Linked DNA regions of Homo sapiens. The protein of the gene in region 1 purifies or fractionates together with the protein of each later gene. This does not show direct contact. Each region holds a gene or a part of one and is shown on either strand. Other genes may lie near its edges.

What was found.
Region 2: the proteins of FGF14 (region 1) and GEMIN2 purify together in Homo sapiens (affinity purification with mass spectrometry; one large-scale study listed by BioGRID and IntAct). This does not show direct contact.
Region 3: the proteins of FGF14 (region 1) and SCN5A purify together in Homo sapiens (affinity purification with mass spectrometry; one large-scale study listed by BioGRID and IntAct). This does not show direct contact.
Region 4: the proteins of FGF14 (region 1) and ZSWIM8 purify together in Homo sapiens (affinity purification with mass spectrometry; one large-scale study listed by BioGRID and IntAct). This does not show direct contact.
Region 5: the proteins of FGF14 (region 1) and KIAA0232 purify together in Homo sapiens (affinity purification with mass spectrometry; one large-scale study listed by BioGRID and IntAct). This does not show direct contact.
Region 6: the proteins of FGF14 (region 1) and GEMIN5 purify together in Homo sapiens (affinity purification with mass spectrometry; one large-scale study listed by BioGRID and IntAct). This does not show direct contact.
Region 7: the proteins of FGF14 (region 1) and PRKACB purify together in Homo sapiens (affinity purification with mass spectrometry; one large-scale study listed by BioGRID and IntAct). This does not show direct contact.

Annotation. Positions count from the first base shown.
Region 1 is NC_000013.11:101,906,946-101,910,445, reverse strand, and holds part of FGF14 (fibroblast growth factor 14), read left to right. Parts: intron 1-3,500. UniProt on the Homo sapiens protein: Probably involved in nervous system development and function.
Region 2 is NC_000014.9:39,117,323-39,120,822, reverse strand, and holds part of GEMIN2 (gem-associated protein 2), read right to left. Parts: intron 2,825-3,500; coding exon 2,735-2,824; intron 2,284-2,734; coding exon 2,224-2,283; intron 1-2,223. UniProt on the Homo sapiens protein: The SMN complex catalyzes the assembly of small nuclear ribonucleoproteins (snRNPs), the building blocks of the spliceosome, and thereby plays an important role in the splicing of cellular pre-mRNAs.
Region 3 is NC_000003.12:38,548,688-38,552,187, forward strand, and holds part of SCN5A (sodium channel protein type 5 subunit alpha), read right to left. Parts: intron 2,872-3,500; coding exon 1,634-2,871; 3' UTR 1-1,633. UniProt on the Homo sapiens protein: Pore-forming subunit of Nav1.5, a voltage-gated sodium (Nav) channel that directly mediates the depolarizing phase of action potentials in excitable membranes.
Region 4 is NC_000010.11:73,788,606-73,792,105, reverse strand, and holds part of ZSWIM8 (zinc finger SWIM domain-containing protein 8), read right to left. Parts: intron 3,437-3,500; coding exon 3,283-3,436; intron 3,011-3,282; coding exon 2,916-3,010; intron 2,740-2,915; coding exon 2,567-2,739; intron 2,390-2,566; coding exon 2,282-2,389; intron 2,151-2,281; coding exon 2,069-2,150; intron 1,935-2,068; coding exon 1,814-1,934; intron 1,132-1,813; coding exon 930-1,131; intron 783-929; coding exon 607-782; intron 248-606; coding exon 1-247. UniProt on the Homo sapiens protein: Substrate recognition component of a SCF-like E3 ubiquitin-protein ligase complex that promotes target-directed microRNA degradation (TDMD), a process that mediates degradation of microRNAs (miRNAs).
Region 5 is NC_000004.12:6,859,227-6,862,726, forward strand, and holds part of KIAA0232 (uncharacterized protein KIAA0232), read left to right. Parts: intron 1-1,674; coding exon 1,675-3,500.
Region 6 is NC_000005.10:154,928,212-154,931,711, forward strand, and holds part of GEMIN5 (gem-associated protein 5), read right to left. Parts: intron 3,367-3,500; coding exon 3,247-3,366; intron 449-3,246; coding exon 316-448; intron 1-315. UniProt on the Homo sapiens protein: The SMN complex catalyzes the assembly of small nuclear ribonucleoproteins (snRNPs), the building blocks of the spliceosome, and thereby plays an important role in the splicing of cellular pre-mRNAs.
Region 7 is NC_000001.11:84,196,271-84,199,770, forward strand, and holds part of PRKACB (cAMP-dependent protein kinase catalytic subunit beta), read left to right. Parts: intron 1-345; coding exon 346-472; intron 473-1,458; coding exon 1,459-1,554; intron 1,555-3,500. UniProt on the Homo sapiens protein: Mediates cAMP-dependent signaling triggered by receptor binding to GPCRs.

The DNA.
Region 1 (3,500 bases):
CATTGTCTCACCAGTGCCTGGCATACAGCTAACACTTCAGAAGTATTTGTTGAGTGAATGAAACATACCACATTTGTCAGGACATATATGCAGCAGAAGCATAGAATACAATTGAGATAAATGAACGCATAGCAATGGCTATAATTGGATAATTATTATTATTATTATTTTGGTCTGATTTACTTTTTATTTTATTTATTTTTTTATACTTTATGTTTTAGGGTACATGTGCACAAAGCGCAGGTTTGTTACATATGTATACATGTGCCGTGTTGGTGTGCTGCACCCAGTAACTCGTCATTTAACATTAGGTATATCTCCTAATGCTATCCCTCCCCCCTACCCCCACCCCACAACAGGCCCTCGTGTGTGATGTTCCCCTTCCTGTGTCCATGTGTTCTCCTTGTTCAATTCCCACCTATGAGTGAGAACGTGCGGTGTTTGGTTTTTTTGTCCTGGTGATAGTTTGCTGAGAATGATGGTTTCCAGCTTCATCCATGTCCCTACAAAGGACATTAACTCATCATTTTTTATGGCTGCATTGTATTCCATGGTGTATATGTGCCACATTTTCTTAACCCAGTCTATCATTGTTGGACATTTGGGTTGGTTCCAAGTCTTTGCTATTGTGAATAGTGCCGCAAGAAACATATGTGTGCGTGTGTCTTTACAGAAGCATGATTTATAGTCCTTTGGGTATATACCCAGTAATGGGATGGCTGGGTCAAATGGTATTTCTAGTTCTAGATCCCTGAGGAATCGCCACACTGACTTCCACAATGGTTGAACTAGTTTACAGTCCCACCAACAGTGTAAAAGTGTTCCTATTTCTCCACATCCTCTCTATCACCTGTTGTTTCCTGACTTTTTAATGATCGCCTTTCTAACTGGTGTGAGATGGTATCTCATTGTGGTTTTGATTTGCATTTCTCTGATGGCCAGTGATGATGAGCATTTTTTCACGTGTCTTTTGGCTGCATAAATGTCTTCTTTTGAGAAGTGTCTGTTCATATCCTTCACCCACTTTATGATGGGGTTGTTTGTTTTTTTCTTGCAAATTTGTCTGAGTTCATTGTAGATTCTGGATATTAGCCCTTTGTCAGATGAGTAGATTGCAAAAATTTTCTCCCATTCTGTAGGTTGCCTGTTCACTCTGATGGTGGTTTCTTTTGCTGTGCAGAAGCTCTTTAGTTTAATTAGATCCCATTTGTCAATTTTGGCTTTTGTTGCCATTGCTTTTGGTGTTTTAGACATGAAGTCCTCGCACATGCCTATGTCCTGAATGGTATTGCCTAGGTTTACTTCTAGGGTTTTTATGGTTTTAGGTCTAAAGTTTAAGTCTTTAATCCATCTTGAATTAATTTTTGTGTAAGGTGTAAGGAAGGGATCCAGTTTCAGCTTTCTACTTATGGCTAGCCAGTTTTCCCAGCACCCTTTATTAAACAGGGAATCCTTTCCCCATTTCTTGTTTTTGTCAGGTTTGTCAAAGATCAGATAGTTGTGGATATGTGGCATTATTTCTGAGGGCTCTGTTCTGTTCCATTCATCTATATCTCTGTTTTGGTACCAGTACCATGCTGTTTTGGTTACTGTAGCCTTGTAGTATAGTTTGAAGTCAGGTAGCATGATGCCTCCAGCTTTGTTCTTTTGTTTTAGGATTGACTTAGCAATGCGGGCTCTTTTTTGGTTCCACATGAACTTTAAAGTAGTTTTTTCCAATTCTGTGAAGAAAGTCATTGGTAGCTTGATGGGGATGGCATTGAATCTATAAATGACCTTGGGCAGTATGGCCATTTTCATGATATTGATTCTTCCTACCCATGAGCATGGAATGTTCTTCCATTTGTTTGTATCCTCTTTTATTTCATTGAGCAGTGGTTTGTAGTTCTCTTTGAAGAGGTCCAATAATTGGATAATTATTAATGTATTTAACAACTACCTGCATGACACTCTGTGTCTATTGAGTACTATTTAATCTTCACAACAAACCCATGTGGTAGGTACACTACATTATCCATTCATTAATACACTAAATTATCCAGTAATCGATAATACACTAATATTATCCATTCATTCATTTTACAGATGAGGAATCGGAAACAAAAATAAAAAGCTTGCATAGCTTTGAAGAGTGGGGCTGGGATTAGGAGAAGATCTGCTAACTGTTTAGCCCATCTGCCTGCCTACTATTTGCCTGCACTTACAAGGCTGAATTTGGCTGAAGAAAAATACGCAGACACATTGGTCCTACTTTAAATTCACAGTCAATAACCTCAGGGGGCCCCTTGGTACATTTCTTTTTTAAAATCCATTTTCACTTAACTGGATCATATTTCTTACCTTACTTCCCTTCAAACCTCTTATGTCTCCTCTCCCATTTCTACTCTCAGCTATATCCTTACTTCTATTTGTCTGAGAAAGTAGAAATAATAAGAAATAAATGTTCACATACTCCACAACTGCTTTTATAAGTCTATCTGCAGATCTATCCATTTACTCCTCTTTTTATTTTTTTACTGAACTTGGGGATAAACTCCTAGTGCTGTAATCTAAGTTCAAGACCTCATCAAATTTAGCATTAGACCATCTCTCCTACTCAGGGAAATCAATCCAATAATTTTCTTCTCTTCTGCATCATCCTACTGTGTTATCCCACATCCTCCTGTATTATCCTTAACAGTATTTAAATATGCTCTAATATTTAGAACATCTTAAATAATTACCCCATGTTAAAAAAGAATCCCCTCTTGGTTATGCATTTCTCTCTAGCTATTGAATTAATTGTCTGTTACTGGCAAAACTCTTTGAAAGAGAAATTGCAACTATCCTTCTCCCATTCTCTCTTGGACCCTTTCTAAACAGGTGTTTGTCCCCAGTAACAAACTGTTCTTGTCACGGTCACCCATGACCTGCAAGTGATCAAACTCAAGATTCTGTTTTCAGTTCTTATCCTACCCGTATAGTATTTGGCATTCAAATTTTCATAATAAATTTGTATTTTTTACTACAAAGTGGTAAAGTTAGCATCGAAATACTTTAAACCTACCATTTACCCAACCAGTACCCTTTATGCGATCATCTTTTTATAGTGACGATATATTTGGGTTTCTAATTGAGAGTATTAATACGTTAACTATTCCATGTGATTTGATGTTCAGCCAAACACTAATAGTACTCAGTTGGTATTCGGGTACCATTAGAAGGCAATGCTTGGTGTTTCCTTACTTGGGAAGAATATTCCTTTCATCACATGTATTTGTGTTTGGACAGAGTGGCTTGTCTCTATAAAACAGAAGAAGATGAATGGTCTTTCTGAGAATTAGTCTTTGTATTTAAATATAATAGATTTGTGATTAAGCAACGGCTGCTTTTCAGACTCCTTAATTACTATCATAGCAAATAATCATTGGCAAACTAAAATATTAGTTTGCTTAATGATAAATATCACTCAAGTTTAAGCATTATGTAGAAAGAAATAGTCATAAACTTTGGAAGGGCCG
Region 2 (3,500 bases), on another chromosome or scaffold:
AACCCCGTCTCTACTAAAAATACAAAAATTAGCTGGGTGTGGTGGCAGGCACCTGTAATCCCAGCTACTTGGGAGGCTGAGGCAGGAGAATTGCTTGAATCCAAGAGACAGAGGTTGCAGTGAGCCAAGATTGTGCCACTGCACTCCAGACTGGGCAACAAGAGCAAAACTCCATCTCAAAAAAATAAATAAAATAAAATAAAATAAAATAAAACCTCACGATGAACATGAGACCACTACAAAGTTAAACCCTATTGTCTTGGAATAAGGTTATCTACCTTTTCCTAACACTCTATTAGGTCAGAAGCTGTTTCTGTTTCAGTTAGTACTGAATATCCTGATTATTAAATATAGCACATGCTTAAATTATTGGATCAATTAATAAACAAATGTTTATGTTTTCACACAGTTGCCATCACAGTGTACTTTATTTTTTAAATAATTTAAATAGAGACAGGGTTTTGCCATGTTGCCCAGGCTGGTCTCGAACTCCTGAGCTCAGGTGATCTGCCCACCTCAGCCTCCCAAAGTGCTGGGATTATAGGCATGAGCCACTGTGCCTGGCTCAGAGTGTACTTTAAAACATTTTCATTTTATTACTTATATGATGTTTGCATTTGCCATGACAAACACTTAAAATTGCTACATAATATTCCACTGTTCTGATGGACCATAGTTTATTGAATCAATTATGTTAGGTCATTTCCATTTTTGACAAAATTTTATCAAGTCATAATGTTACTGATGTGGCTTCTTTTTTAGTTAGTGGGCATGCACCCAAAAGGCCTTCCGCTAAGTAAGAAAAAAAATATATTTACCTACCTAGCCCTGTCCCTACTACATACATACATCCTTGGTACTAGGAAGGCACCATTGCATAGTCAAAGGCACACAGGCTTTAGAGACAGACCAACTTGGGTTTGAACCTTAAGCATACCTTTTGTGTGTTTATGTGCGCATGCTTCTTTGATAGAAGGACTAGCTATACCTTTTACAAGTTAAATGACCATTGGCAAGTGATAAGTTACTTCCCTTCACGCTTTTCCTGGAGCAGAGCTTCCAAATGGTATGCAGAAGCATACAGAGATGCCATATACTGAATCTCTCAGCTTTCGGCTGGTTTCAGGAAGAATATGCAAGCAGTCATTTATTCTAATGTGTCACCATGTAAAAGATATCAGGAAGCACTGCCTAAAGGAAGCTTCTAAAATCTAAAATCTATGAACTACCTGAAACTAAAATGTTGTGCATAGGTGCATTTTTTTTCCCTCTGAAGATAAATAGCTTTCATTAGATTCTACGAAAGAATATGAAGTCCCCTAAAAGGTTAAAAACTACTGTCCTGAGACAATGTATCATCTTTCCAACTCCTTTTTTCATTTGGTAGTCCTGATATATCTACTAAAGGGCTTAAAGTTATATCTAAACTGATAAAATATAGGACATATGCATGACAATATACATGACAGGTTTCACTTATATGTCACTGGAATTGTGACACAGACTCATCACATTAAGCAGAAGCAGAATCCATTCACAAGTTCTGTAAACATGTGAGTTTACTGCATGGCACCATCACCTCATCAGGAAAATCCATTAAGGCTTTATTCAATTTTTTTTGTAAATATTGAAAATGTATTTATTTCCTAGAAAGTAAATGTCTAGAAGAATCCTTAAAAACTTGTGGAAGTTTCACAGTCACCTATCCAAAGTCCCCCAAGATATTGTGAATTAAAATTGACATGAAAGGCTGGGTACAGTAGCTCATGCCTGTAATCCAGCACTCGGGGAGGCTAGGGCAGGAGGATCACTTGAGCCCAGGAGTAAGAGACCAGCCTGGGTAACACAGGGAGACCTTGTCTCTACAAAAAATTTTAACAATTAGCTGGGCATGGTGGTATATGCCTTAAGTTCGAGCTACTTGGAAGGCGGTGGTGGGAGGATCACTTGAGCCCAGGAGGTCAAGGCTGCAGTGAGCCATGACTGCACTCTAGCCTGGGAGACAGAGCAAGACCCTGTCTCAAAAAAAAAAAAAAAAAAAATTTGTCATGAAAATCTATACTTTCCAGGCTACTAATGTAATGAATTGTTACTATTAATGGTATATTGAAGAGAATGAAAGTAACACTGACTAGGCAAGTGAATCTTTAACGACTGGAAGTAAATATAGACTCTTTCAATCAGGTATACATTGTACATCTTAAAACTGAGAAACTTACATACCATTGTCACATTACTATCCAACTGTTGTGATTTCCAGTGACTTCTATGTTTGTTCACATTCTAAAGGAAGAAAACTTAGACATTAGATGGTACTCTTCAAAAAATGGATAACTGAAATCAGTTTCTGCACAAAATTGTAACCATCTAAAACTTGAAAAATGGGAAAGGTGGGAGGGGGTGAGATGTAAAAGACCATGTATTGGGTACAGAGTACACTACTTGGGTGACAAGTGCACCAAAATCTCAGAAATCACCACTAAAGAACTTATCCATGTAACCAAAAACCACCTGTTCCCCAAAACTATTGAAATAAATAAACAAACAAATAAAAATAAACAAAACTTAGAAAATATTTCAAACTGTATCATGTCTAATGATTATAAAAATAATTTGGTAATTAATTCATGAATATTCTGTATACTTTAGGATCATAAATTTTATTTTTCCAGCTACAGTCTAAGAACAGAAATAAATCCAACAGGGGCTTAATTAGATTAAATATGACACTTACCTGTCGAACAGTTGAAAACTGTGCCACTTGTTGCTGTTGCCATTGAAGTGTTGGGGAATAACCTTCAGGGGCGGGTTGGCATCCTGAAAGCTAGAGATCAAGTTCACAAATATTAGGATCAACATTAGTGTCAAAACTAGAATCTCATGCCTCTGCAAAGCAAAAGTAAAACCAAGATAAAGTGTATAATAAAATAAAGATTATACAAGAAAATAAAATATTTTTGCAGATGTAAAAAAGTAGGCATTTCACTTTATTATTTATATCTCAGTTAAAAATATTAGGGAAAGAGCCTTAGTCACCTTAATCAGAGAAATCTGGAAAGGTTTATAGTTGGAGTTTCTATGAAATCTAAATGACATGAGCCTGGAGAATATGATCTAGCCCTACCTGCCTTTCTAGAATAGCAAAACAGAAACAAAAAGAGAGATATACCACAAATAAAGAATTCTGGTATGAAATACAGTTAGAAGGAATGAGTTCTAGCATTCAATAGCACAGTAGAGTGACTACAGTTAACAATAATTTATTGTATATTTCAAAACAGCTAGAAGATTTGAATGTTCCCAAAAGAAAGAAATGATAAATGAGGTGATGGCTATCCTAATTACTGATTATTATACATTGTATGCATGTATCAAAATATCACATATACTCCATAAATATGTACAATTATTATTGTGCCTGCGTGATAAAGCATGAAATTATGATTATTATGTATCAATAAAATTAAAAATAAGAACTTTGGTATGGGCAAAATGTACTT
Region 3 (3,500 bases), on another chromosome or scaffold:
CCGACAGCTCGGCGAGGTAGGTTAGGAGCAGCCAGCCCAGAGCCGGCAGGTGAGACTGAGGTGGCCTGGGAGGCATGCGCCCGGTGGAGGGGCTCCATGGGAGAGCTGGAATGGGGCAGCCAAGCCCCTGCCTGCTCAGGCTTCGCCAGTTGACCCTGTTACCTCAGGGTGACAGTTCTCTATGTTAAAAGATTTGCATATGCTAAATAGGATTGTCAGCAGCTGAAGAGGTCCTGGGGGTGATTGGACTAGTAAAATATTTTTCCCTGAAAAAGCCTTTTCACAAGACCTATGGGACCACCTGGATCTTGCCCCAAAGAGGTCCTCTGTGTGGGTGCCATCAGGATCCCGGGCTGAGCCAGAGAGGCTGGGCCTGACCACAGTGCCCCCTCTCTCAAAGGTGCCATGGTTCATTCCCCTCTAAGGGCACGAGAACTGGGCCTGACCATCCCTTTCCCTGCACAGGGCGCAGGGCCAAGCTCCGCTCCCCACTCCCATGTCTCTGTGTCTGGAGAGGAGCTGGAGACCACACAGAAAACTCCTCCGCGTATGGTCCAGAGAGCCCTGGGAGATCGCCAGTTTCCTCTCTTCAGGCAGGCTGAGGGGCCGCCATGGCTCAGGGCTGGTGAACTTCTTAGCCCCAAACCCCCATGGCTCAGCCCTCTCTTCCGATGGCTGGCTGGGCAGGGCCTGCCAGGTTCCAGGAGCAAGGACAAGCTGCATGCCAGGCCGTGAATGGGGCTTGCACCCTTGTGTCCTTTGGTTTTGTTAATACTCTTACAGGAGGGGAAGAAAAGGCAACTATCAGTGCCTAGGGCCAGCCCTGGGACCCAGGCCACTCTCCTCTGGAAGCCTTTTATTTTTGTAGGACTGACAATATGACCTGCGTGAAAACACAGGGGGAAAATGGGACCTTGGAGACAATAGGGGGCCAGAGTGAGCCCCGTGGACAAGAACCCCATCCTTGGGGGGCCGGCAGGGAAAGGCCTGTCTCCCTTAGGCTGGGAGCCTGGGTCCCACGGCCTGTGTCTGGCCTCCGTGTGTGAGGACTGTGTGTGTGTGCTTGTGTGAGTGGGGGTTCAGCCCTCCCAGCATCTCAGGTCAAGTGGGAGGGGGACCCCATTCGACCCCTGGGCAGTGAAGACCTGTGGGAGCCACACTGGATTCCACTTCTGCTTTGAGAACAGACTTCCGGCTGCTCCATAGACACTCTTGTTCAGGGTTAAGAAGAGACAGCGTGAATTGCTGCCCATGTCCATGGAAAAATCCTTAGTTCTTTGCTCAAGTAAAAAAATATCAAATATAATAAATTTATGAAAGCCCATTCACAACATATACAGTCTCAGTTTTATATTTCGCCTCAGCAGCTGGGATGAAGTTGCTTTCCAGAGCCGCAGGGCATTGCCTGACCAGACCAGGTCACAGGTCTATCTGAGGCCTCCAAGCACAGGCCAACTGCTCCGGCTGTCCACGCGGCGCCACAGAACTCTGCCTGGTTGATCCGCGGGGCTGAGGCCCATTTCTTACTCCCAAAGCCAGGAAGGCCCCAGGCTGGTTTGTGACTGACTGCATTTAGGTTTGCCATGGTGAAAAAGGCTGCTTTTCAGTGTGTCCTGGCCAGCCAGGCCGAGGCTCACACGATGGACTCACGGTCCCTGTCCGGAGAAGGGGGGAAGTCGGCGAGATCTTCACTGTGGCTGTAGTCAGACCCCCGCACCTGGAGGTTATCGCTGGTGGCTCTAGTGACACTGTCATAGGAGGGTGGGAAGGAAGTGGAGGAGATGGAGGAGCTGGAGGGTGGGCCAAGGGGTCGGGAGAAGTTCTCACTCATCACGTAGGCGATGAGGCCCTCTCGCTCAGGGGCATCCTCTTCGGAGAGGCCGCTGCCCGCCTGCTGACGGAAGAGGAAGGAGGCATGCTTCAAAGAGCGTTGCAGCAGGTGCCTGCGGAAGGCTCTCTGGATAACCATGGCCGACACCTCTTCGTGCTTGCGCCGGAGTGTGGTGGTGATGGGCTCGTAGGAGATCTTGGATGGGTTGGCTGCCATGAACTTCTCCTCCATCTGGATCTTCAGGGCGTCCATCTCCCCAGACTCCCCCAGGACCCTTTTGGTGAAGGCAAAGAGAATGTCCATGCAATGGATGCGGTCCCCACTCACCATGGGCAGGTCCATGTTGATGAGGCTTATCTGGTTGGGCTTGGCGATACGGAGTGGCTCAGACAGGGCATCGGCAAAGTCAGACAGGACCGAATACTCAATAAACTGAGTGGCCTCTGGGTCAAATTTCTCCCAGATCTCATAGAACATATCGAAGTCGTCCTCACTCAGGGGCTCGGTGCTCTCCTCCGTGGCCACGCTGAAGTTCTCCAGGATGATGGCAATGTACATGTTGACCACGATGAGGAAGGAGATGATGATGTAGGTGGTGAAGAAGAGGATGCCCACGGCTGGGCTCCCGCAGTCCCCCCGAGAGCCATTGCTGTTGGGCAGAGTGGGGTCGCAGTAGGGCGGCCCAGTGTTGAGGATGGGGCTGAGGAGGCCATCCCAGCCGGCCGACGTGGTGATCTGGAAGAGGCACAGCATGCTGTTGGCGAAGGTCTGGAAGTTGAACATGTCGTCGATGCCAGCCTCCCACTTGACATAAGCGAAGTTGGCCATGCCAAAGATGGAGTAGATGAACATGACGAGGAAGAGCAGCAGCCCGATGTTGAAGAGGGCAGGCAGGGACATCATGAGGGCAAAGAGCAGCGTGCGGATCCCCTTGGCCCCTCGGATCAGTCTGAGGATGCGGCCTATTCGGGCCAGGCGGATGACTCGGAAGAGCGTCGGGGAGAAGAAGTACTTCTGGATGATGTCCGAGAGCACAGTGCCTGTGGGAAACAACAGAGACTGTGGCTACTGGTGGCACCTCTGTCTTCCAGCCAGCATCACTGTGCAGGGGTTGGCGGTGGGGGGGGGGTCTCTATATGGCAAGGAGCCAAGGAGAGGCGGCCCTTCCAGGATTGCGTCCACTGGGCATGCTAGGACTCTGCCTGCTCCTGTCTGTTTGAGTCTCCATGTCTGCATCTGTGACCCAGAAAAATGGGTCCTTTGCAGGGTTCCTTCTCAGCCCCCTCATTCCTTAATCTTCAGTGTGTACCTACACAATAGAGCTGTCCTAGGCCCATCTTCTACATCTTGGGTTCTCAGGCCAGAGGGGATCTGCTTAGTATCTTGCCCACCCAGCTTGGGCCAGAACTCAGGTCTTTTAGCTCCTTGCTATTCAAAGTGTGGTTTGAGGACCAGCAGCCTTGGGATCTCCTAGGTGCTTATCAGAAATGCAGAATCTCAGCTCCACCCCAGCCCATTGCATCTTAAGAAGCCCAGATGATTTATGTGCCCATCGAAGGGCATGAAACACTGGCCCAGAAATCAGTGCTCCCTGATGCCACGCCATGGCCAGTGTCTTCTCTCAGCTTCTCTGTGATGGTTCTTATCGCTCTCCTAACTCTGCCTCCTT
Region 4 (3,500 bases), on another chromosome or scaffold:
CCCAGAGCGGGAGGCACCTGGCCGAGAGGGCAGGGCCCGGGCCCAGCACAGTGCCAGCTTCCTGTCAGTGCCGCTGTAGGTGACACCAGGAAGTGGGTAGGCCTCTTCCCAGTTGAAGTAGCAGGCCTCCACCGCTGGCCGGAAGCCGGGGAAGAGCCGCTCCAGCGTCTTCTTGTGTTGGCCCCGCTTGACGTTCTCAATCACCTTCAGTTGCCACTGCCGCAGCTGCGTACACAGTTCCCGGCGCCTGTGGGAACAAGGGGCAGGAGGCTGCTGAGGGGCTACTGGGAAAGGATGGGCATGGAGTAGGTGTACACCCCAAAGAGAGGCATGGGGAAAGGATACAGGAAAGTACTTCTTGACCCAGCCCCATAAGCATCACTGAAACACTGGAGAATTTTGAAAAGTGGGTGTTATTTAGGGGAAGGAAGGATGAAAGCCTCTCAGAAAAAGGACTCGTAAATCACTGCTAACACCAGTGCTCAGCACCTCCCGTTTCCCGAGGACTAAAATCATGGTATGTCTCTGCAAACAAGGAGATGAAGGCTCAGTCTGTCCTGAGCTGGCCCAGGCTCAGTTCTGTGGTGAGCCTCAGGGGAGACTCACCGCTGGGGGCTGAGTGCAGGGTCCAGCACGGCCAGCCTCCACAGTGTGACCATCTCGTCACACATGCTGGCACAGGCATGGGCTGCCACCTCTGACTGCCCGTTGCTACGGCCCGTGTGCCCACTGGCACTGCTGTGTGAGGCTGAGGTACGTACGCTATACCACCAACCTGTTATCTGGAGACAAAGAAGGCTGTGAGCTGCACCTGAGAGCTCAGAGAAAGGCAGAGTAGCCCTCCCAGAGTCCATTTCAGCAAGAGGAGGATGAGGCAGGGGGAGGGAAAGAATGAGCTACCACGGGGCTCCCCAACGCTGAGTGATTACCTGTTCATAGGTGAGGCACTGGTCAGTGAGGATTTCCAACAAGGGGGCAGCATTGCTGTCCCTCCGCTTGAACATCTCCCGCACAATGCTTAGCAGGTTCCAGACGCCCTCTGGCTCACGGCCCCTCAGAGGGCGCAGCAGACATGCCCATTCAGCAGCGGCTGGCGGCTCCGTGGAAGACAGATACATGGAGTTCACATCACTGTAAAAGCAGAGGAACAGAAAACCATGACAGTAAGACGGGGCTGAATGAAACCTAAAAGGGCTTCCGGCCCCAAAATACAGAAGATAGAGGGAAAAAGACATCTGTAACAAAATTTTTTTTTTTGAGACCAAGTCTTGCTCTGTCGCCCAGGCTTGAGTGCAATGGCGCGATCTCACCTCACTGCAACCTCCACCTCCCGGGTTCAAGCAATTCTCCTGCCTCAGCCTCCCAAGTAGCTGAGATTACAGGCGCCCGCCACCACGCCTGGCTAATTTTTGTTTTTTTAGTAGAGATGGAGATTCGCCATGTTGGCCAGGCTGGTCTCGAACTCCTGATCTCAGGTGATCTGCCCACGTCAGCCTCCCAAAATGCTGGGATTATAGGTATGAGCCACCGCCCCCAGCCACAAAAACTCTTTAAAAAATCTTTCTCTGTTTCCATTTCCTGATCTATCAAAAGAAGAAAAGGAACTCTTGCTAGGTAAGAGCAGACCACTCTGTGACTGTACAAGGTCATCATCTTCCATCAATTCGTTAGTGACAACTGTGTGCCAGGCACTGTGCCAGTTCAGGGAATAAAAGGTAGGGGTCACAGGCATGAATAGAAGAAAGGATCTGTCATCAGCCTGAGGGACGCTCCCCCTCCACCACAGACACAGGTATGCAGAGATCCGATTTACCTGAAGACCACAGGGGAGGGGCCACAGAACTTGTGCAGTGTCTTTTTGATGTTGTCAGTGAGTGTCGATTCATCCAGATACCAAGTACTCTGGTCCGATGCTGAGGGCCCTGCTGTGGGGTCTGAGGATGACAGGCAGTCAGTCATCTAGAGATAGGGGCCTGGATTTGCCTGACAACAGCAAGCCTTGAGTAAATGGCGCTCTGTACTACAAGCTGGCTTTCTTCCTACTGCCAATCTTTCTCACCACACTCACCCGGAGCTCCACACACTGTATTGATGGCTGTTGACTGGGAAGACAGGAGTTCGTCCAGGAGACGCTGAGCTGTGGGGAGGATCTGAGGGAGAAAGAGACGGAGGCAGGCAGAACACGGCCTAGGTGAACCCATGGAGGCCTGGGCCTAACAGGAAGGCTGTTATGCGGCCTGGCCCGGAGCTAATTGCAGGAGGGGGTGCCGACCTCACCCACCTGCTGAGGGAGCTCACTGATGAGGTACTGAGCAAACTTTTGCAGCTGGTCCCTCTGTAGCCGGGACAGGGACTCTGAGACTGGGGCTCGCAGGCAGACTGCAGAAGCCTGAAGGGGACACAGAGAAAAATGGAACAATCTGAGAACAGGTTTGCTGGAGCTGGAGCTGGGGGACAGAGAGGCAGAGTAGGCGAGGCGAGGGGGCTCACATTGTAGCCAGGCATGCAGCAGAGAAGGGGGGGATGGAGTGTAGGATAGGGCCGGGATAAATTGGGAGGGCCTCACGTTGTGGATGCGGAAGAGACAGAGTGCCACGACGTGGGTGCACCATTTGGCCCCAGCCCCACAGGTACAGCTGCAGGAAGTGACCCGGCAGCGGTCAAACATCACAGCCACGTTGTAGGCCCCTTTAGGAGGGACCATCTGAGGTGGCACCACTGTAGCACTCAGGTGGAACCCTGGGGAGAAATGGGGGCATGGTCAGGGAGTGCTGTCAGGACCTGGGTCTCTGCCCTTGACCCTGGCCCTGCAGTTATTCAGACAACATGCTCCAGCTTCTTGCGGTGTGTTCTTACTTCATAAGCCAGGGGATGGGAGGAGCAGGATGTGCCACATGGCATGATGGCCCACTCACCTATCTGCAATGGGTCCTTCACAGCCCGCATGCGGAAGAGCTGATCCCCTCGCTGAAACTCATCCGCACTGCCATTGGCCAGGCACGAATACAGCCTGGGGGTGAAGAAGAGGACACAGCCACAACTCAGCAAATAACCTTTGGCAGACCCTGTCAGAGACCACAATGCCCTAGGCACTCTCTCCCTAGCCTCATTCCTTCCCCAGGGCGGGGGGTGGGGGGGAGGGAGTGGAATCCCAGGCAATCCCTCCCTTGTCTTCCTCTTACCACTGCCCCAAATACAATGTCTCCTTTGTTCTATGGGAAACCCAGCAGACAGTGTGGAGTATCAGGACCCCGCTCCCCACCATCAGTCCTTTGGCCTCACCGAATGTCCTCTTCATTCTCAGGGAAGCTCCAAAAAGCAATTCGGAGCTGTAGCTGCTCAGGCACTGGTGGGTAAACTTTCTCCACCACTTCAAATGGGATATGAAATGCCACCTGCTTTGCTGACAGCTCCACCAATGGGATCACCAGTCCATCTTTGCAAACAATGGTTGGGATCAGGGGAAAGAGAATAGGAAATGAAAAGGGCCATGGTCTCTT
Region 5 (3,500 bases), on another chromosome or scaffold:
CTTCCTAAAGATACTTTTATTTTTTTGTTCGTAAATAGTCTTAAAATAATCTGCATTATAAACAGACTTCCCTATTATACATTTTATTTTAATCTTTCGAACCTCTGAAACCTAAGAAAAAAATAGCATTTCCTTGGTTTGTATAGACCTGTATTATCCAGCACAGAAGCTGTAAGCCATGTGTGACTACTGAGCACTTGAAATGGGGCTGGTTCAAACCGTGATGTGCTGTCAGTGGACAATTCTCATTGGATTTCAAAGACTATATATAAAAAAAAGTAAAGTATTAAACATTTTAAAGTATTGATTACATGTTGAAATGATAATATCAGGAGTTTAGTTAAATATATTACTGGAGTGCATTTCACCTATTTCTTATGTTTTTAATGTGCCTACTAGAACACTTAAAATTACATATGAAGCTCAAAATATATTTCTGTTGGTCAACTCTGACATAGACTGAGAAAGAGAATCAAGTTCAGGCCCTTTGAAAACATGGCCTTTTACCACTTCATGTGTGACCTTGAGCATTGCCTCTGAAACAACAGTCCCCAGTAGCCAATGTGACTTTAAATTCTGCCCTTTGCAATCTGTTCTGCTCTGAAATCTTCAGTGGCCCCCAGTTTCCTAGCAAATCAAAAATACTTTCTCATTTTCAAGCCCCCTGAAACCAGCCTCCCTGGCTTTTTCTACGCTGCATTTCTGGTGATCACAGCTCTAGTTAGTTTTCCATTCTGTGAGCATAACATGTGTGTCTTGGTGTCCTCACACAGGCTCTCAGGCCTCACAGGTAGTACTCACTAAACTTGTGGAATAAATCTGGAATTTCAAGGCTCAGTTGTGGCCCACTTTAATTGTTGTAGGCCTCACCGACATCCTCTTTCTGAATACTTGAATGTGATCATTCCTACCCTTTCTGAGGGCCTGCTTCAATGCCAGGCAGTATGCTAGCAGTTACGTAAGAAGCTGCTGTTCCAACTCATTTTGCATATTAATTCCTTTACTCCTCACAACCCTGAGAGGTAAATATTACTAGCTCTATTTTGTAGGTGAGGAAACTGAGCTATGGAGAGGTTAAGTAACATGCCTAAGGTCACACAGCTAGTAAAGCAGGCAGAGCCAGGATTTGACCTCAGAGAATGTGGCTTCAGAGCTCATACTCTTGACTGATTGCTACCGAGCTTTTTAACCGCATATATTTTCAACGCTCACAATAACTTTGGGAGGTAAGTCATAGGATCACCATTTTGCAGTTGAGGAAATAGTCTGAAGCAGTAAATAATGAGCTTAAAGTCGCAAGCAATAGTGACTTAGCTGAGATTCAAATTCAGATAATGCTTACTGAAGAGACTGCATTCTTTCTTCTACTATTTGTCCTTTTTGACTTCTTAATTAAAATGCAAACTTTGAAGATAAAAACTGTCATCTTACATATTTTCTCAGTAATCTTACAGTGCGTATCACAGTGCTGAGCAAAATGGTGCTTGATGCATGGGACTAATCTTAAGCATATTTTACTGTATTATAAATTATTGTAAAGTTAATGATTCTTGGATGATGTGAATGTTGACACTACTAAAATGAAATATTCCATTCTTCTGGTTGGTAATGTTGTTTTACTGTATCTAAAAAATCTGCATACTCGTGTTTTGAAGTCTTTACTCTGTTTTTCAGGTACTATGAAGCATTTCCACCACTTTCTGAGAAACCAGTTTGCCTGCAAGAAATCATGACTGTGTGGAACAAGTCTAAAGTCTGTTCTTACTCTAGCTCTTCTTCATCATCCACAGCCCCACCAGCTAGCACAGATACTTCCTCTCCTAAGGACTGCAACAGTGAAAGTGAAGTCACCAAGGAAAGAAGCAGTGAAGTACCCACCACTGTGCATGAGAAAACCCAGAGCAAAAGCAAAAACGAGAAGGAAAACAAATTTAGTAATGGCACAATTGAAGAAAAGCCTGCTTTGTACAAAAAGCAAATCCGACATAAACCTGAAGGAAAGATTCGCCCTCGCTCGTGGTCTTCTGGCTCCAGTGAAGCAGGCTCAAGTTCCAGTGGGAATCAGGGAGAATTAAAAGCATCCATGAAGTATGTTAAAGTAAGACACAAGGCACGAGAGATTCGAAACAAAAAAGGGCGGAATGGGCAAAGCAGGCTTTCTTTGAAGCACGGTGAAAAGGCTGAAAGGAACATTCATACTGGAAGTAGTAGCAGTAGCAGCAGTGGTTCTGTCAAACAGCTGTGCAAGCGGGGTAAGAGACCTTTAAAAGAAATAGGGAGAAAAGATCCTGGGAGCACTGAAGGAAAAGACCTGTACATGGAGAATAGAAAGGACACAGAGTATAAAGAGGAGCCCTTGTGGTACACCGAGCCAATTGCTGAATATTTTGTTCCTCTGAGCAGAAAAAGTAAACTAGAGACCACATACCGAAACAGACAGGATACAAGTGATCTGACATCAGAGGCAGTGGAAGAATTGTCTGAATCAGTGCATGGTCTTTGTATCAGCAACAATAATCTTCATAAAACATACCTCGCAGCAGGTACTTTCATTGATGGTCATTTTGTAGAAATGCCTGCAGTTATAAATGAGGATATTGACCTCACTGGGACCTCATTATGTTCTCTACCAGAGGACAATAAATACCTGGATGATATTCATCTATCAGAATTAACGCACTTCTATGAAGTGGATATTGATCAATCCATGTTGGATCCTGGTGCCTCAGAAACAATGCAAGGAGAAAGTCGGATTTTGAATATGATTCGACAGAAAAGCAAAGAGAACACAGATTTTGAGGCAGAATGTTGCATAGTGTTAGATGGTATGGAGTTGCAAGGGGAACGTGCAATATGGACAGATTCTACCAGCTCCGTAGGTGCTGAGGGCTTATTCCTGCAGGACCTTGGCAATCTGGCTCAGTTTTGGGAGTGCTGTTCATCCAGCTCCGGTGATGCTGATGGGGAGAGTTTTGGAGGAGACTCTCCAGTTAGACTCTCTCCCATCTTAGACAGCACAGTGCTCAATTCACACCTGCTTGCTGGCAATCAAGAGCTCTTTTCAGATATTAATGAAGGATCTGGTATAAACTCTTGTTTTTCAGTGTTTGAAGTGCAATGCAGTAATTCTGTTTTACCATTTTCTTTTGAAACACTCAACTTGGGAAATGAAAATACAGATTCTAGTGCTAATATGCTTGGGAAAACACAGTCTAGATTGCTAATATGGACCAAAAATAGTGCCTTTGAAGAAAATGAACACTGTTCTAATCTTTCAACAAGAACTTGTAGTCCATGGTCCCATTCAGAAGAAACACGTTCAGACAATGAAACATTAAATATTCAGTTTGAAGAATCCACACAGTTTAATGCCGAAGATATTAATTATGTAGTTCCTAGAGTCTCGTCAAATTATGTAGATGAAGAACTTCTAGATTTTTTGCAAGATGAAACTTGCCAGCAAAACAGTAGAACTTTAGGTGAGATTCCTACATTAGTTT
Region 6 (3,500 bases), on another chromosome or scaffold:
CCTTTCTACACTTGAAGTGACTGAAGCTCAGAAAAGTAAAGGGTCTTGCTCAGGAATACAAGGCAGTAAGTGACAAAGTGATTCTGAAATTTAGTTCTGACTTCAGAGTCCATATTCCTAACTGCCGGACTATACTTATGTGATCTTTTTACAGCTCTGTTAGTAGATAGCACAGGCATTAGTCTCATAATTTTTCCATTTCAAATGGCCCATCATAATACAAGCCTTGGCCATTACTTTCTCCATCCTAGGAGGACTTGAGGCCAAATAGAAAAACAAAATATATCTGAGAAAGCATGACCAAAAAAGACTTACCCAAAACAGCTAGATACCAGCTGTGTTGGTTGATTGCTGGGCCAATGGAGTGTCAACCAAAGGCGCTCTTTAACAGTTGGGTCTATACCCCCTCCTCTTCTCTTCAGAAAGGGCAATTTCAAAATCATCACCCCTGCAGATTAAAAAGAAGGCCAGTGGGCACTCAAGACAGTGAAACTACATGCATGAAGTCACCGGTGGTTCATAACACACAGTCTGCGCTGTAAAAGCTTGTTAGTTTGGCTACTTAGAATTCAGATCTCATTTTCCAATGGTTACAATTTTAACCATTATTATGGTTATAATTTTAATCACTATAAATACTGGTTAATACTAGTCTAGCTACATTTAGGTCAAACAAGCTTCGACAGGCTATCTTGACAACCTCAACGTATTAAGAGTATTTTTTTTTTTTGGCCGGGCGCGGTGGCTCATGCCTGTAATCCCAGCACTTTGAGAGGCCGAGGCGGGAGGATCACGAGGTCAGGAGATCGAGACCATCCTGGCTAACATGGTGAAACCCTGTCTCTACTAAAAATACAAAAAAATTAGCCGGGCGTGGTGGCAGGCACCTGTAGTCCCAGCTACTCGGGAGGCTGAGGCAGGAGAATGGCATGAACCCAGGAGGTGGAGCTTGCAGTGAGCTGAGATCGTGCCACTGCACTCCAGCCTGGGCGACAGAGAGAGACTCTGCCTCAAAAGAAAAAGAGTATTTTTTCGTCTGGGAAAATGAGTTCCCAAGTAAAACTGAGAACCCAGCTAGTAACACAGCTGAGTTGTGTACCCAAAAGTATTGCAGTGACATAACTCCAAAGTGAAAAGGACAGAGGTTGGGATTACTATTTCTAGTCGGCAAGAAATCCAACAAAGAAAAATTTGGCAGTGAACGTGCTGTGGGTGGGGAGTACCTCCACCCGACATGCTTCTAATCACCGTTTTTTAAGCTGTATTGTGCATCGGAACCACAGGTGGAACTTTAAAAAATACATACGCCAGGGCCTAACTCCTAGAGATTCGGACTCAGTAGATCTGAGGTGGGGTACAAGAACCTACATTTTTCCAAAGACTCTCCAGCTGATTCTGCTGCACAACCACAATTGAAGGCCATTTTACCAGACACCTCTAAGTCTAGAGGTTACCCTCCTGGAGGGATCCTCAGCCTTATGTTCCCACTTGGAGTTTTAGCTGCAGTATGCCAAGAAGTAGCCTGTAAACCTTAAAAAAGTTCTGTCTTCCCAAATTATACTATTAGTTACCTACCACTGATGAAGCCTGGATGACATTCCAAGTGCTGTGCTACTTGCTTTACATGCATTTGGGCAAATATGATAAAACTATCATGGTTTCAAATAAAGTAGAAAGTACATCCATGCTCATAGCATATTATTTAGAATAGTAAAACATGGAAGCAACCCAAATGTCCATCAGTGTGTGAGATATGAGTTCTAAATTTCTCTTCAAAGAATCAATATGTCAGTATGTTCAATTATTTGGCTTCTGTTTTTAAACTTAACTTCCTCGTAAAAGCAACCTTTTTCGATTACCTGCTCCATCCTGACTCATTCCGATTACCTGCTCCACCCTGACTCATTCTGATTTCCTGCTCTGCCATAACCATTTTTCCTGCCATAACCATTTTCTCCCATCAAACCACTTACCCCGGCACTCTCTTTAAATCAGCGAATCAGAATTAGTTTAGCCTGTGCGGTCTAACCCTAGCTGATAGGGGAACGACACAGCAGCAGGGGCCACATGCGTCAGGGATAAGAACCCCTCCCCTCCGTTGTCCAAGTGTGCGCTCACCATTGCTCCATCTGTAAGGGCGCACCCTTCTATAGAAGTACATTGCCTTGCTGAGAATTAAAAAGAAAGTTTTATATTTGAGTGCTATTTCTTTTGCCACACCGAAATTTTATTTATAACAAGTGGATGAGTGGGTAAGTAAAATGTGGGACATACACACAATGGAATATTATTCAGCCTTAGAAAGGAAGGATATGCTGACATACGGTACCAACATCAATGAACCTCGGGGATATATGCTAAGTGAAATAAGCCAATCACAAAAAGACATATCATATGTATAACTTCACTCAAAGGAAATACTCAGAGTAGTCAAAATCATAGAGCTGAAAGCAGAATGATGGTTGCCAGGGCCTGGGGGAGGGGGAAATGGAGAGTAGAATTCTGGAGATGGGTGGCTGTGACAGTTGCACAACTTTAGAGTGTACTTCATACCACTTAAATGTACACTTAAAAGTGATAAAGATGGCAAATGTTATATTTTCCACCACAGCTTAAAAAACTGCCAAAAAAAATAAAATAAAATGAAGAAAGAAGAGAAGCCCGCTAGAAAGAGAAAAACAAGATTTTTACTATAAAGGTTATATTCTATGATATACTATAAATATTCATTATGCCTAGAGTTTCTCTCAATTTTTAAACTTAAAGATAAAAGTTCTGTTCAAAGAGACATTTGGGAAAGCTAAATGATTGAGGGGCTCTATAATTTGGATAAAATGAGCTTTTACACATAATTCTATGCTGGGTGTATGTAATTTATTCTGCATTTGTGCATTAAAAGCTCTAACTCTTAAGATATTTTCCATTCTCCTGGCTTAGGCCATATCATGTTCTAATATTCCTGTTTTTATTACAAATATTCTGCTCTCCATGCCAAACACTGACCCTTCTATAAAGCAAGAGATCCTTGTCTTCTCCTGGAATGCATGGGAAATACTAATCTCTAAGGCCAGATGTTGAGAGAATAGAGAGTCTAGGCCAGGCTCAAATGAGGAAGCAGAATTCTAGACCAAAAAGTGAAGAACTGCTCTCAAATAGATGACACACCCTCAGGACAATAAGAACAGAAAACCCTCTACTTCCACCAGATCAACATAGGTTACATCACAAAAGAAAGATCAATCTTACCTCGGCCTCTAGAACAGCTCCAGATTCGAATGGTTTGATCTTTGCTTCCAGTGGCTAAGTAGCAACCTTTTGTTACTGGAGCTTGTGCTACAGCATTCCCGTTGGTAATTTCAGCTTCTTCTATGAGATAGGTGGCAATTTTGTTTTTAATTTACATTAAACACGCACTAATATAAAAAAATTAGTTTGCAAGAGTTTCCAAAACTTAGCTATCTCTTTCATAGGTCTGAACTATAAAATTTGAAGTTTTAGGT
Region 7 (3,500 bases), on another chromosome or scaffold:
TCCATTTGGCACATTTGCTTTCCAATTATTCTCAAGATCAGACATAATTAGAAAGACATCAATATATTTAAATATGGGCAATAATGATTCACAATGAGCTAACTATTTTAGGTTTATATTTTTCCTCAACATATGCTTCCCCATAAATTTATCAGAGCGTTATTTGAACAAAATATAGAGATTTAATAAATATTTGAAAAGTAACAAGGTTCTTTACATACTTTTTAAAAAAATACTTTTTGTTCCCAAAGTACCTCTACTTCATATTAGTTTTTATGCATAATCTACTAATTAGAATGTATTAACTCATTTTTACAGAAAATCAATGGTTTTATTTCTTTGCAGTGAGCCCCATGCACGGTTCTATGCAGCTCAGATAGTGCTAACATTCGAGTACCTCCATTCACTAGACCTCATCTACAGAGATCTAAAACCTGAAAATCTCTTAATTGACCATCAAGGCTATATCCAGGTATGACTTTAACACATTATGTGTACTGTATATGAGAAAATACTAGGCAAGACATTGTATGTATGTAACCCCAACTTGGAATTTTTTTTGAAGAAGACACTTTCTCCTAATAGTTTAAGTAGAGCTCAGAGTTTTGCTGCTATTACAGAGAAGCAAAAATCCTGTTATGAAAGGAACTTGTTTATATCTCCATTAATCTATAGTTGTGAACTGAGTATAGCCTCTTGCATAAGGAGATATTAATAGCTAAATCTATGAGCAGTTATTAGTGCCAGGCATATTCCACTTGTTTTACATGTATTATTTCTTTAATCCTGATAAACCTATGAAGTGGAAATACCATTGTTATCTTCATTTTAAGATTAACAAAACTAAGACATAGCAAGGTCATTTAGCCAATAAATGGTAGAGTCAGAATTTGAACCTAGGCAGTCTGATCCCAGAGTCCATGCCCTTTACGACTACAATATAACTGCCAAAGAATCCCTGACTACCAATACTGAACTCGTAGCAACGTTTTCTTTCCACTTCTACTACTAATAAAGTGGGAGCATTTCTTTTTACACAATTATTGATAGATTCTCCCATTGACGTTTTTACACTTCTGATGGTGCAACTAATGGCAGAGGACACATTGGGGTAAGGCAGACATTTAGCATTGTTTCATTTTTATTAATGCTATTTATTTTTACCTTTTATTTTCACTTTTTTATTCCTTGGGTCTAGGATCTTATAATAATGACTGAAAAGAGTTTTGTTGTTATTAATTTGTTCCTTTTCTTTGAGTTGAGGAAGGATTTCCAACTTGGATTGTTTAAACTTTCATTCACTAGATATTCATGAATGAATTTCAATTACGTGGACTTAATTTTTTTTCCATTTCTTTCATAGTTTCAATTTGAATTTTAAACTTTCAACGTAGGTGCAATAAATACATTTATTGTGAGGTAATACATTTTCACTAGTATTCTTTTTTTCTTTTATAGGTCACAGACTTTGGGTTTGCCAAAAGAGTTAAAGGCAGAACTTGGACATTATGTGGAACTCCAGAGTATTTGGCTCCAGAAATAATTCTCAGCAAGGTATATTCATAATATCAACACATAAGAAGTAGAAATATGAGACATGCATCCCTATGGACTTTTGTAAAAACAGTTTATTGATCTAATTTTACATTTTTAATTTGATCTAAGTTATGAATTTAAATCTATTTGTGCATGATTACTAAAGAATTATTATTTAGCATCTACCACTAATCCTGTAACCTCTGTCAATTTTAACTCTGGGTCTTAGAGATATAATATGAATAAATATGACCTCTAGATCCATGTTTTGCAACCAAAAACATAGTCTTTTCTTAATTATTCCTAGTAACGGAAGGGTAGAGAAGACTTGCTCTGGATTATACCAAGAGGTAAATCTAGAGATGATATGTACTAGTTGTCCATTCTTTCTTTGTTTCAAATTTACCAGTTAAATAAAAGGAATGTATGAGAAGTGTTTTTAAATTTTAAATAGGACTATTAACAGCAATTGAATAGTTTTAGTCTTATTGAAGGCAGCTCTGCTTTTCTAAATAGTGAAACGTGGTGAGAGAAACTGTACCTATATCCAAAAGAATGGTTAACTTTTCCTCTGCCATCACTTGGTGGAGAAATCTAGAAAGGAGAACCTAACAATAACCAGGCACAAATAGGAGAGAGGAAAAGGAAGGGGATAAGACACATGCTTCACTGGTTCCCAAATGGAATCATTGAAATATGGCTAACTTATAGAAGTGTTAAAATAAAAGATTTCTTTCAACTTTTCTCTCATTATCTTTCATAATTTAAATAATATGTAACTTCTTGATATTTTATAATCTAAATATCATTGTAGTTAACACATTTCTTTAAATACAGTTAACAAATAATGGGACAACAAAATGAGCACTAAAACTTTTACAAATGTGTATATATTGTAAAAGTAATACTCATTATACAAAATTTAGAAAATACAGAAAAACATAAACAAACAACCAAAAAAAAACCTATATGTAATCCCACCAACCTAGACGCAGCCTTTTTAAAAACATTCATATATGTATGTACATATATGTATATATGTGTATATGTGTATATATATACACCACATATATGTGTATATATGTGTATATATATACACATATGTGTGGTGTGTGTGTATATATGTATATGTGTATATATACATATATATTCATATATATGTGTATACGCATATATGTATATATGTATATGTGTATATATACATATATGCGTATATATACACATATATACGCATATGTATGCATATATATATGCGTATATATGCATATATGTATATATATGCGTATATATGCATATATGTATATATATGCATATATATATATATATACACACACATTTTAGCTTTATTTTAGCTTTCATTTTAGGTTCAGGGATACATGTGAAGGTTGGTTACAGACGTAAACTCATGTCATGGGGGTTTGTTATACAGATTATTTCATCACTCAGGAATTAAGCCCAGTACCCATAGTTATCTTTTCTTATCCTCTCCCTCCTCCCTACCTCCACCCTCAAGTAGAATCCAGTATCTGTTTTTTCCTTCTTTGTCTTCATAAATTCTCATCATTTAGCTCCCACTTACAAGTGAAAACATGTGGTATTTGGTTTTCTGTTCTGCATTAGTTTGCTGAGGATGATAGCCTCCAGCTCCATCCATGTTCATGCAAAAGACATGATCTCATTCCTTTTTATAGCTGCATAGTATTCCGTAGTGTATATGTACCACATTTTCTTTGTCTAGTCTACAATTGGTGGACATGTAGGTTGATTCCATGTCTTTGCTTTTGTGAATAGTGCCACAATGAATAAACAAATGCATGTGTCTTTATGATGAAATGATTTATAATCCTCTGGGTGTATACCCAGTAGTGGGATTGCTGGGTCGAATGGTAGTTCTGCTTTTAGCTCTTTGAGGAATCTCCATACTGCTTTCCACAATGGTTGAACTAATTTACACTCCTACCAAC